Linked DNA regions of Homo sapiens. The protein of the gene in region 1 purifies or fractionates together with the protein of each later gene. This does not show direct contact. Each region holds a gene or a part of one and is shown on either strand. Other genes may lie near its edges.

The links. The genes of interacting proteins can lie anywhere in the genome.
Region 2: the proteins of SDK2 (region 1) and VPS13A purify together in Homo sapiens (affinity purification with mass spectrometry; one large-scale study listed by BioGRID and IntAct). This does not show direct contact.
Region 3: the proteins of SDK2 (region 1) and TSPAN5 purify together in Homo sapiens (co-immunoprecipitation; one large-scale study listed by IntAct). This does not show direct contact.

What each region holds. Positions count from the first base shown.
Region 1 is NC_000017.11:73,396,446-73,399,945, reverse strand, and holds part of SDK2 (protein sidekick-2 precursor), read left to right. Parts: intron 1-656; coding exon 657-778; intron 779-1,516; coding exon 1,517-1,626; intron 1,627-1,760; coding exon 1,761-1,911; intron 1,912-2,463; coding exon of another isoform or gene 2,464-2,538; exon of another isoform or gene 2,539-2,903; intron 2,904-3,500.
Region 2 is NC_000009.12:77,180,534-77,184,033, forward strand, and holds part of VPS13A (intermembrane lipid transfer protein VPS13A), read left to right. Parts: intron 1-3,500. UniProt on the Homo sapiens protein: Mediates the transfer of lipids between membranes at organelle contact sites. Binds phospholipids. Required for the formation or stabilization of ER-mitochondria contact sites which enable transfer of lipids between the ER and mitochondria.
Region 3 is NC_000004.12:98,469,867-98,473,611, reverse strand, and holds the end of TSPAN5 (tetraspanin-5), read left to right. Parts: intron 1-1,024; coding exon 1,025-1,090; 3' UTR 1,091-3,245; downstream 3,246-3,745. UniProt on the Homo sapiens protein: Part of TspanC8 subgroup, composed of 6 members that interact with the transmembrane metalloprotease ADAM10.

The sequences.
Region 1 (3,500 bases):
AGGTGTTGCTATTATCCTCTTCATTACCAAGGAGGACATGGAGGCACAGAGAGTTGGATAACTTGTGCAAAGACACACAGCCTGTAAGTAGTGGAGTTAGATTTAAACTCATTCTGACTCCAGAATCTGTGTTCTTTCTGTTGTTCCTGAGCTCCAAGAGCCCCAGGATTCCTGGCCAGAAAATAAGCTTCCCCCTGTCCCCACCCATCCTCTCACCTTCCTGAGCTGTAATTAGGCGTAGGAGGTGTGCAGGGGTCTGGGCGGATGGAAGGGAGGATCGGTCCCGTTTGGTTTCTTTCTCAGCACAGCTTGGTTTTAATGCAGCTTTTAGCTGCCTTATGATTACCTCACTCACATCCAGAACTGCCAGGAAGAAGGCGGCATCCCGGCCCCTGTTTCCTGGCCCTGAGAGCCTCCTCTCAGCCCTAGGAGATCCCCTTTGACCCCCAACTCTGTCTCAGCCTCCTGGCATGAACATGGTTCTCCGTAAGACACAGGAACAAAGACTGTGGGTGGAGTGGGGCCGTGGCTGTGCTTCTCCTCAGACATTTCCAGGAAAAGCGTGACACACAGCCCCCTCCATGCCCAACAGTCCCGTTCAACATGGGGGGCCATTCTCACCGGATCTCCTTCCCCACCCTGTTCTCCTTTTCCAGAACTCCCAGGGCCCCCCACCAACCTGGGCATTTCCAACATCGGCCCCCGCTCTGTGACCTTGCAGTTCAGGCCAGGCTACGATGGGAAAACCTCCATCTCCCGCTGGCTGGTGGAAGCCCAGGTAGGGCAGGCCTGGGGCCTGACCAGCAGCCCCCGCCAGGGCACCCCGTGCCCTTGAGTGCAAAATCTTATGTGTATTTCGGCCTGTGTGAATTTTCATGTGCAGCTCTCAATGGCCCATTATACTCCAAATGCTCACACTTGCCAATGTTGTCTCCAACTCCCCCTGCCCCTCACCTGTGTACATGGAAAAACACACACACACTACAGTCCCCTCCTGGGTCGGGGGGTGCCTAGAAAAATACCCAGTTGCTGGAATATAAAAATATCCGCCTTGGCTGTACCCTGGAATCATCAGGGGAGCGTTCAGAAGCGCCAACACCTGTGCCCCTACCCCAGAAACTCTGATTCTGATTTAGCTGATTTGAGGGGCAGCCTGGGTCTCTGGAAGTACCCGGGGTGTTCAAGAGAATCACCTGGGCTGCTTGTTAAAAGCACAGATTCCTGGGCAGCACTCGAGGGATTCTGTAAGTAGTGGAGTTAGATTTAAACTCATTCTGACTCCAGAATCCAGGAATATATTGATCACAAGCATCCTGAGAGATTCTAAGGCAGGAGGGTTGAGTCACACTTGCAGTCATGTTTAGGGGCCTGGAAAGATGGTAGCCCCATATGGTGCCCTCCAGATGAGCCCTGGGTTCTGAACCAACTTCTTCCCTGGCAGGGCTTGTACTGGGGCTCGGAGCACCCCGTGTGGGCCCTGTAGGCTGGACAGGCCTAAGATCCTGCCCTTTTCCAGGTAGGCGTGGTTGGGGAGGGAGAGGAGTGGTTGCTGATCCACCAGCTCTCCAATGAGCCCGATGCCCGCTCCATGGAGGTGCCCGACCTCAACCCCTTCACCTGCTACAGGTAATGAGACTGGCCCGGGGAGAAGGCAGCAGCCTCAGGGCTGGGGGTGGGTGGGGGCTATGGCCCAGACCAGGACAGGGTTGAGAGTTGGGTGAGCTGCCCTTACCATCTTGCTCATCTCTCCCCAACCCCAGCTTCCGCATGCGCCAGGTGAACATCGTGGGCACCAGCCCCCCCAGTCAGCCTTCTAGAAAGATCCAGACCCTGCAGGCACCCCCTGACATGGCCCCAGCCAATGTGTCTCTGCGCACAGCCAGTGAGACCAGCCTGTGGCTGCGCTGGATGGTAAGGCTCCCTCGAGGGCAGGGGTGGGACCTCTCCATGAGCTTCTGGTCATTGCCTCCTAGAAGGTGCACATCAGAATTCCTACAGCTCCTTTCTCCTCTCTTTCTGTTTTCTGATGAGATGCCTGATAATCAACATCTTAGCCCAACGAACAAATGCCCCCCCGCCCGCCGATGAGAGGAAGGAGCTCAAAAATACTGTTTACTGAGCATCGCCAAGTGGCAAGCATTTTAAATTTTCATCCCATTTGATTCTCCCAATAATCTTACAAAGGATACATGATCATCCCAATTTACAGCTAAGAAAACTGAGGCTCAGAGAGGTTAAGAACTTGCCCACAGCCACACAGCTCCCAAGCGGCGGGTCTGGGGTTCAAGTGCCACTGTGGCATTCAGAGAGTGTCCCCAGATCCGGGCTGTGTGTTGAGGGTCCTGACCGTGGGCCATCCTGCACGAGGTAGTGACAGTAACACACCGAGGCTTCCTCTCCTACCAGGCGCTGTTCTGACAACAAGCCTGTGACAGCAGAGTGATCCTGGTCCCCCTTTTGCAGATGAGGAAACCGGGGCAGAAGAGAGGTCAGATCACTCGCCCAAGTTCTCCCGTATCCTCCCACGTGCTTTCATGAACAGCAGGGCTGAGGTCCCAACCCGGGGAATCTTTACCCGCAAGTCCACAGCCCTAACCATCGGGCACACTGCCGTCTCATCCTCTGGAGAACAGGCCACTTCTCCCCACCAGGCCCTCTGGAACATCGTTTCCCAGCACGTGTCCCACAGAGCAGCAATCCCAGGAGGCGTGTGGAGCAAACAAGAATTCTTAGACAAATAAATGTGGGAACAGCACCACATACCACAGCTCCATAGAGAATCCAGGAACACTAGCATAGCAGGAGCCCTCTTGACCCTGCTTCCCCAGGCCCATCTGACCACACAAACCCTTTGTTTCCACGTAAGATCTCACTCATTGTGCAAAACACAACTTGCAAACACACCACACTGTGAAGTCATTATTGCCGTTCCTGTGCGCGGACAGCTTGATGCTAGCGGCCATGAAAGCGCTTGGCGCCGTCAGTCCTCGATAAATATGAGTTATTGATTGCAGTTCCCTTCCCAGAGTGGCTGGTGCCTGAGCAGAGCTGCAGAGCTGTCTCGGCCCACCTCAGTGCCCCGTGCACAGTGTGACTATACCCACCTCCTGCCTCTTTGCTCCCAGGCATCCCCACCCCAGGCTGGCTCCCTGCTTCCTTCCTGAATCTCACTTTAAGGTTTGCAGCTACTAAAAGGTTAGAGCCTGATGCGGAGGGCAGGGACTGCATGGGGGAATAGAAAGGCAGCTGCCATGTGGCACAGGGCCCTAGACACTTCTCAGGCCCACGCTTAATGGTGCGTGGTCCATTACCTTTCCTCAGCAGGTAAAGGAACTTGCACTTAAGCCCCATCTCCGGCTCTCAGGACCATCGATTGCTATCTTAATGGTCTTTGGTCGGCTTCACTAAGTGTCTGCAGGAGGGAGGAAGCGTGTAGTGAGCAGGGGAGGTTGGGGCCGAAGGTGAGGAGTGGGGTAAAGTGGGTCAGCCTAGGGTGAGCC
Region 2 (3,500 bases), on another chromosome or scaffold:
GATGTTCTCCTGTGTTTTCTTAAGGAAGTTTTGTAGTTTTAGGTTTTGGATTTCTTTTTGTATAAGGTGTGTGATATGTGTTGAAGGTTGAGGTTCATTTGTTTGCATGTGGATGCAAATATCCAATTGTTTAGCACCACTTGCTAAGAAAGAGGATCCTTTCTCTATTGAATTATCTTTGCATTTCGTAAAAAAAAAATCAGTAGACTTAATATTGTGTGGCTTTAGTCTGTCTCAATCTGTGTGTCTATCATTTCACCAATACTACACTGTCTTGATAACTGTGTCTTTGTAGTTAGTCTAGAAATCAGGTAATGTGATCCCTCTAACTTTAGTCTTTAACAAATAATTTAAAAAATAACAAGTCATTGTCCAGGTGTGGTGCTCATTCCTGTAATCCCAGCACTTTGGAAGGCTGAGGCGGGAAGATTGCTTGAGCATAGGAGTTTGAGATTACAGTGAGCTCTGATCATGCCACTGCATTCCAACCTAGGCAACAGACAGCGAGACTCTGTCTCAAAATAAAATAAAATAACATGTCAGTGTTTTATTTATAGAAATTGGTTATGTTTTGATAAATGAAACTTTAAATAATAGCTGGAGTATTTTTTTAAAATATTCTTTGAGAATTTCAAAAGTAGTAATTTGATAAATTTGGAGGATTTTTTAAAAACATTGTTTGAAAATTTCTGTAATAGAAACTAGGTGGCCAGGCATAGTGGCTCATGCCTGTAATCCCAGCACTTTGGGAGACTGGGGAGGGTGGATCACTTCAGACCAGCCTGGCCAATGTGGTGAAACCTCATCTCTACGAAAAAAATAAGATACAAAAATTAGCTGGGTACTGTGGCGCTCGCCTGTAATCCCAGCTACTCAGGAGACTGAGGCAGGAGAATCACTTGAAGCTGGGAGGCATAGGTTGCAGTGAGCTGAGATCACACCATTGCCCTCTAGCCTGGCCAACAGAGCGAGACCCTGCCTCAAAAAAAAAAAAAAAAAAAAAGAAACTGGATGCTGCATAGGAAAATTTTAAGATAATATTTTATGGTCTAACGTGAAGGACCTATTGGTAGTTGTAAATGTGTGCTTTTGCTAGGCTTCTGAAATAATCCAGCAAATTTCAATATTAGCATGTTACTATAATAGTATCAATTAGTATTCAGTCATTGCTAATAATGGATGGTGCTCTGAAAATTTGTTGCTGAGATGGATTCTTTGGAAATCAGAATGCATTTTTCCCATGGAAGCATTCTTATATATGAATGAGGACTTTTCCAAAAACCTGTTTAACTATAATGCAGCAGAAGAGTGCTACTGTACTGGGTTCAATACAGTAAGTAGACTCACTGCTAGAAGACTCTGTCTTACAGGGGATGAAAAAGGAATTGAGCTTCATTCCAGGACTGACTCTTGGCAAATTTTGATGTTGGTAAGGTATACTTTTTATACACTTCTATTTATAATTCTCCCTTCCCATATATCATCTAGTTAGAGAGGTGGTAATATTTCATAGACTCATCTGAAATTTATCTTCCCAACTTTCTCCAGCAATTTTCTTTTTCTTTTTCTTTTCTTTTTGAGACGGAGTCTCGTTCTGTCACCCGGGTGGGAGTGCAGTGACGCGATCTCGGCTCACTGCAACCTCTGTCTCACGGCCTCAAGTGAGTCTCCTGCCTCAGCCTCCCGAGTAGCTGGGATTAAAGGTGCCCACCATCATGCATGGCTAATTTTTGTATTTTTAGTAGGGACGGCATTTCACCACGTCAACCAGGCTGGTCTCGAACGCCTGACCTCAAGTGATCCACCTGCCTTGGCCTCCCAAAGTGCTGGGATTACAGGTGTGAGCCACTGCGTCCGGCCATTTCACATATTTTCTTTAAGAGCTAGGCTGCATCAGAATCAGCCATAGGTGCTTATTATGAATACAGAACCTGCCCCCAGAGATTATAAATTATTTATCTGGAGTAGGACATGAAAATATTTTTTTAAACAAATGACACTGGGGACTTGATGCACAGTTGGGTACATTTTAAGAGAACATTAAGGGGAAAAGTATTAGAATTTTAAATAGACAAAAGCAGTAGTAAAAGTGGCTTGTGTGATAGAATTATCATTTGTAACACAGGAAGTACCTGTACTTCATAGCCCCTTCTTAAGTTAGCCTCCTTTGTCTCTATTTTGTTTTCTCCGAAATCACAATACTTGGACAAATTTGTAATTTTTTTTTGATAATGCCTGACATCTTTATGTAACATTAGAAGTTCAGATTTCTTGTCTATTAACTAACATACGTATTCTGTTTTTGAAATGTTAATCTCCCAGTTTTCCCTTTATAATAGAATCATGTGTTTAGTGGCCACTTAGCTGGATACCGCCATGATACCAGAAGCAGTACAAAAGATGAAGATTCAGTTAGGATACAGTTTTCGATTTTTAAGGAGTCATTCTTCTGTGCCCAGAATACACTAGGGAGCCAAACAAATGATTCTTACAGTCTGGTGTTAATGACCAATTCTAATTCCTTATGTATTATTTTTATATTTATGTTCTAAGATACTTTAATAAAACTTTAAAGACTATGAAACATTTTATTATAAAAAGTGTTAGGAGATTTTACAGTGCCTCTCCATATACCCATTATCTAGATTCTGTCATTAATATTATGTATTAACAGCTTTATTGACGTATAATTAACATGCAGTAAAATACACGTTAAAGTCTACAATTTGATAAGTTTTAGCATATATGTGCATGCAGGTAACAATCATCACATGATAATGAACATATCTGTCATACCTAGAAGTTTCCTTGTGCCTTTTTGTAAACCGTATCTTCTAACCCTCCTTGTCCCTTATACCCTTCTTGTCCCCAGGTTTTTGCTGATTTGCTTTCTGTTACTGCATATTAGCTTGAGTTTTCTAGACTTGGATAAATGGGATTGTACAGTTTGTATTCTTTCAGTCTGGCTTATTTCAGCATAATTATTTTGAGATTCATCCATGTGGTAGTACAATCAATAATTTATTCCTTTTTATTGCTGACCATAGCAAGTGGTGGTGAGGATGTGCAAAAACTGGAACTCTGTTAATATGTCTCCTGGGGATGTAAAATGTTAAACAACTTGGGAAAACAGTTTGGCAATTTCTTAAAAAGTTAAACATACATCAACCATGTTATCAAGCCATTGTGCTTCTACATGTTTACCCAAGAGAAATGAAAGCATATGTTCATACAAAGATTTGCACACAGATGTGCATAGCAGCTTTATTTTTAATAGCCCCAAATGGGAAACAGTCCAAGTATCCACCAACAGGTGAATGGATAAACAAACTGGCATATCCATATAATGGAATACCATTAATATTTAACCACACATGTTTTGTCACATACCTGTCCATCTGTCCATCTCTCTATCCATGCAGCAATTCATATTATTAAATGTATTTCAGAATAAGTTGTAGAGATGAGCTCATTTCCTCCTAAATACTTCAGCATGTGTA
Region 3 (3,745 bases), on another chromosome or scaffold:
GGCGGGCGCCTGTAGTCCCAGCTACTCGGGAGGCTGAGGCAGGAGAATGGCGTGAACCCGGGAAGCGGAGCTTGCAGTGAGCCGAGATTGCGCCACTGCAGTCCGCAGTCCGGCCTGGGCGACAGAGCGAGACTCCGTCTCAAAAAAAAAAAAAAAAAATGGCTAATAAGCACATGAAAAGATGCCAACGTCAGTAGTCATTAAGGAAATGCAATTCAAAGCCACATATTTCATACTCGTTAAAGCGGTTAGAATAAAAAAGACAGACAATAACAAGTATCGGCAAGGATGTGGAGAAAACGAAACCCTCATATGTTGCTAATGGAAATGAAAATGTTGCAACCTCTTTGGGAAACAATTTAGCAGTTTCTCAAAAGTTAAATATAGTGCTACCATATGAGTCAGCAATTCTACTCCTAGAGGAGTACCCAAAAGAATTGAGAAAGTGTTTACCCAAAAACTTGTATGCTCATGTTCATAGCAGAATTATTCATAATTGCCAAAATGTGAGAGCAATGCAAATACACATCAACTGAGGAGTAGATAAACAAAATGGGGCATATCCATGCCATGGAATATCATTCAACCATCAAAAGGAATAAATTAATAGCACATGTATATGAACCTTGAAAATATTTTGCTACATGAAAAAGACAGCCACAAAAGCCCCATATTATATGATTCCCTTGATATGAAATGTCCAGAAGAGGCAAATCCACAGAGGCAGGAAGTAGATTAGTGGTTGCTAGGTCTGTAGGGATGGTGGGATGGGAATGACTGCTCACAGGTACAGGGTTTCTTTTTGGGGTAATGAAATGTTCTGTGATTAGATAGTGGTGATAGTTGCATAGCTTTGTGAATATACTAAAAGCCCCTGAATTATACACATTTCAAGGATGCTTTTTACCACATATGAATTACATCTTAAATTTCAAAAATCAATGATTTAAAAAAATGGGACACAGTGGCCAGGGAAACAAGTTACAAGTGTCACTGTTTCACTCACATTTTCTTCCTTTCTCAGATATTTGGGATATGCCTGGCCCAGAATTTGGTTAGCGATATCGAAGCTGTCAGGGCGAGCTGGTAGACCCCCTGCAACCGCTGCTGCAAGACACTGGACAGACCCAGCTTTCGGGACCCTCCCGCGTGCCGAACTGATCTTCGAGCTGCATGGACCTAATCACAGATGCAGCCTGCAGTCTCGCCTAATGGAGCTGCCATTAGGGGAGTGTAAAACTGGGAAATGCTGCTCACTGACAGAATTAAAAAAAAAAATAACCAGTATGAAAGTCGTTGCGCCGTGAATCTCTACTGTAGCCATGAATTTATGGACAGTTAGATGCTTACCAAAAAAGAAAAAAAGGGAGGGTAGGGGACCCAGATGTACTTGAATGTGCAGAAAATACATTCTTGTCCTCATCTTCCGTAATTGGAGGGCTGGGAGAGGCAGCTTTGCTCTTCACCACACCTTGGACGGACCACCTTCTTTCTGTTCCATGGCCTGAAGGAGTGCATCTCCTCAAAGACTCAGCCCCTCACCTGGGAGGGCAGTGGTTTGTGGGCATCCCTCCATGTACATTTTAGGAAACACTTGCAACTCTCATCTGAAGAAGAAAACAACTCATCTTTGGGTTCAGATTTTGTGATGGTATTCAGCAAGTCACTTGGGCGAGCACACTTGGTCTATCCTGGAAAGTCTCCTTATAAGAGAAGTTGTGTATTTCATGTGCACCGAGCAAGGGCATTGGAAGACGTCATGAGGCTGTATTTTAGCAGGACTGATCGTTTTTCTAAGTAGACCTGAGCTTTGTTTATCAGTGAAATTCAAGGAGAAAATGAGGTTAATGAAGAGGTATCAGTTAAATATCCCCTTCTTCTCACCCTGCCAAAATTAGCAGTTGGATTTTTGGAAACTCTGGAATATTCTGGGTCATTTTGTTTTGTATGTTTGTTGTTTTTCGTCTTCCAAAGGTGAAAGCTATGATACAGTTCCACTTAAATTTTAGTGTTTTCTTACTCAGCTCAAGCATTAATTTTTGATTAAGTCTTAATCTGCATGACCTGTGAATCTGAATCCATCATCTCCCTTTCCTGCCAGCTTTTCTACAAACATTGAAATATGTTATTTGGTCAGCACTTATTTCCTAGGTTCACAGCCTTGGGAGGTTGTGGCATGTCCTCCCAGTCTGGCTGGGAAGAGACCAGCTGTACCATCCAAATGCTTCCCTGGTCTTGATGATCTCTTCCAGAGTCGATCTGAGTGGCCTTTTCTGCACCCTCCCCTTCTTTCTCTTTGAATGGAATTAAACCCAATTTGGAAACAACATTGACCCAGTCAAAAGCTTCTAATGGTTTCTTTTTCTTCCTCCAGTTTTAGTTTGCTTTTATTAAAAAAAGAAAATAGTGCATGGCCATAGCTCCTTCAGTTCTCTTATTGCAGACTAACCATCAGGATGGTATCAAAGCACAAATACTTTGGAGGGGAATGCGTTGAACTGGGGCAAGTACTCTGTAACACAAAGTGGGAAACCACTTCCTGGTGCTGCCGCTCCTGCCCCCACTTTAGGTGGGAGGGACGAGTTTTGCCCTCTAGATTTTAATCCAGCTGGTGTCCACCGGATGTTGCCCTCCTGGGGAGCAGATATCAGTCTGTGGAACTCTGGGAAAACCACAGGCACATTTTTCGGTGCGGACAGATTTGCCAGCACATAACTGGGCAGCCAGCTAGAATACTTTGTGGAAATTAAGCGAGGTTTTCCATTTCAGCCCCATGGTGCATGGTGGTGGCCGATGAATGTGTCAGTCTGCTCAGAGAAAGGACAAAAAGGAAATTATTTTCAAAACTGTGTTCACTGTTTGGGTGTGTGTATGGCTCTGCATGTGTGTGTTTTTGTCTCTGTATAGGTAGAGGTATTCACATCTTACTCCGACTGTAAGGTTGTCTTACTTCATCTCTGCCCCCACCACAGTTGCCATTTTGTAATGTCCTTCCAACATGGAGAAGACACGAGCTCTCTCCAGTTGGCATCATTTGTCTTTTTTGTTGATTGCCTCATTCTCCAGTGAACTCCATCTGGCCAATTGATTCAGAATCAGGCAAGATCCCTGCCCTTTGGCACATCCACTGAAAGGCCAAACAGCAAGTCCGAGTGAGTTTTAAATATTAATTAATCACCCTTTATTTTTTACACTTGAGAGTGATTGTAATAAAGGCTGTCATTAATAAACTTGGTTCTACCTTACATGGTGTGTCTTTCTTCATTACTTCTTTCTTGAAATTGTGAAATTTTCGAATCCAGTGGTTCTCAAACTTTAGCAGGTGTCAGAATCACTGGGAGGACTTGTTAAAACACATGAATGCATTTGCTCCGTGCCCATAATTTCTAACTTAGTAGGTCTGGGGTGGGGCTGGAGAATTTGTATTCTGATAAGATCGTAGGTGATGCTGTTTGCGGCTTGTTTGGGGACTACACTTTGAGAAGCATTGTTCTGATCCAGTTTTCTAGGAGGGGAAACAGAAAGGTAAGATTTTGTAGTTGGGAAGGGAAAGGTTCCTTTGTACTTAAAAATGCTGACTGACAAGACACAGAGGCCAGAGCCTCGTATGTAGGAAATCCCTGCCCATGAGGTCATCTGCTGGTTACAATCACTTGGGGACCATGTGAAATACAGATTCCCCAGACCTTACCCCTAGCAGTTCTGGAGTGGGAGACAGGGTAATCTATGTTTTAAAAGCTCCCTT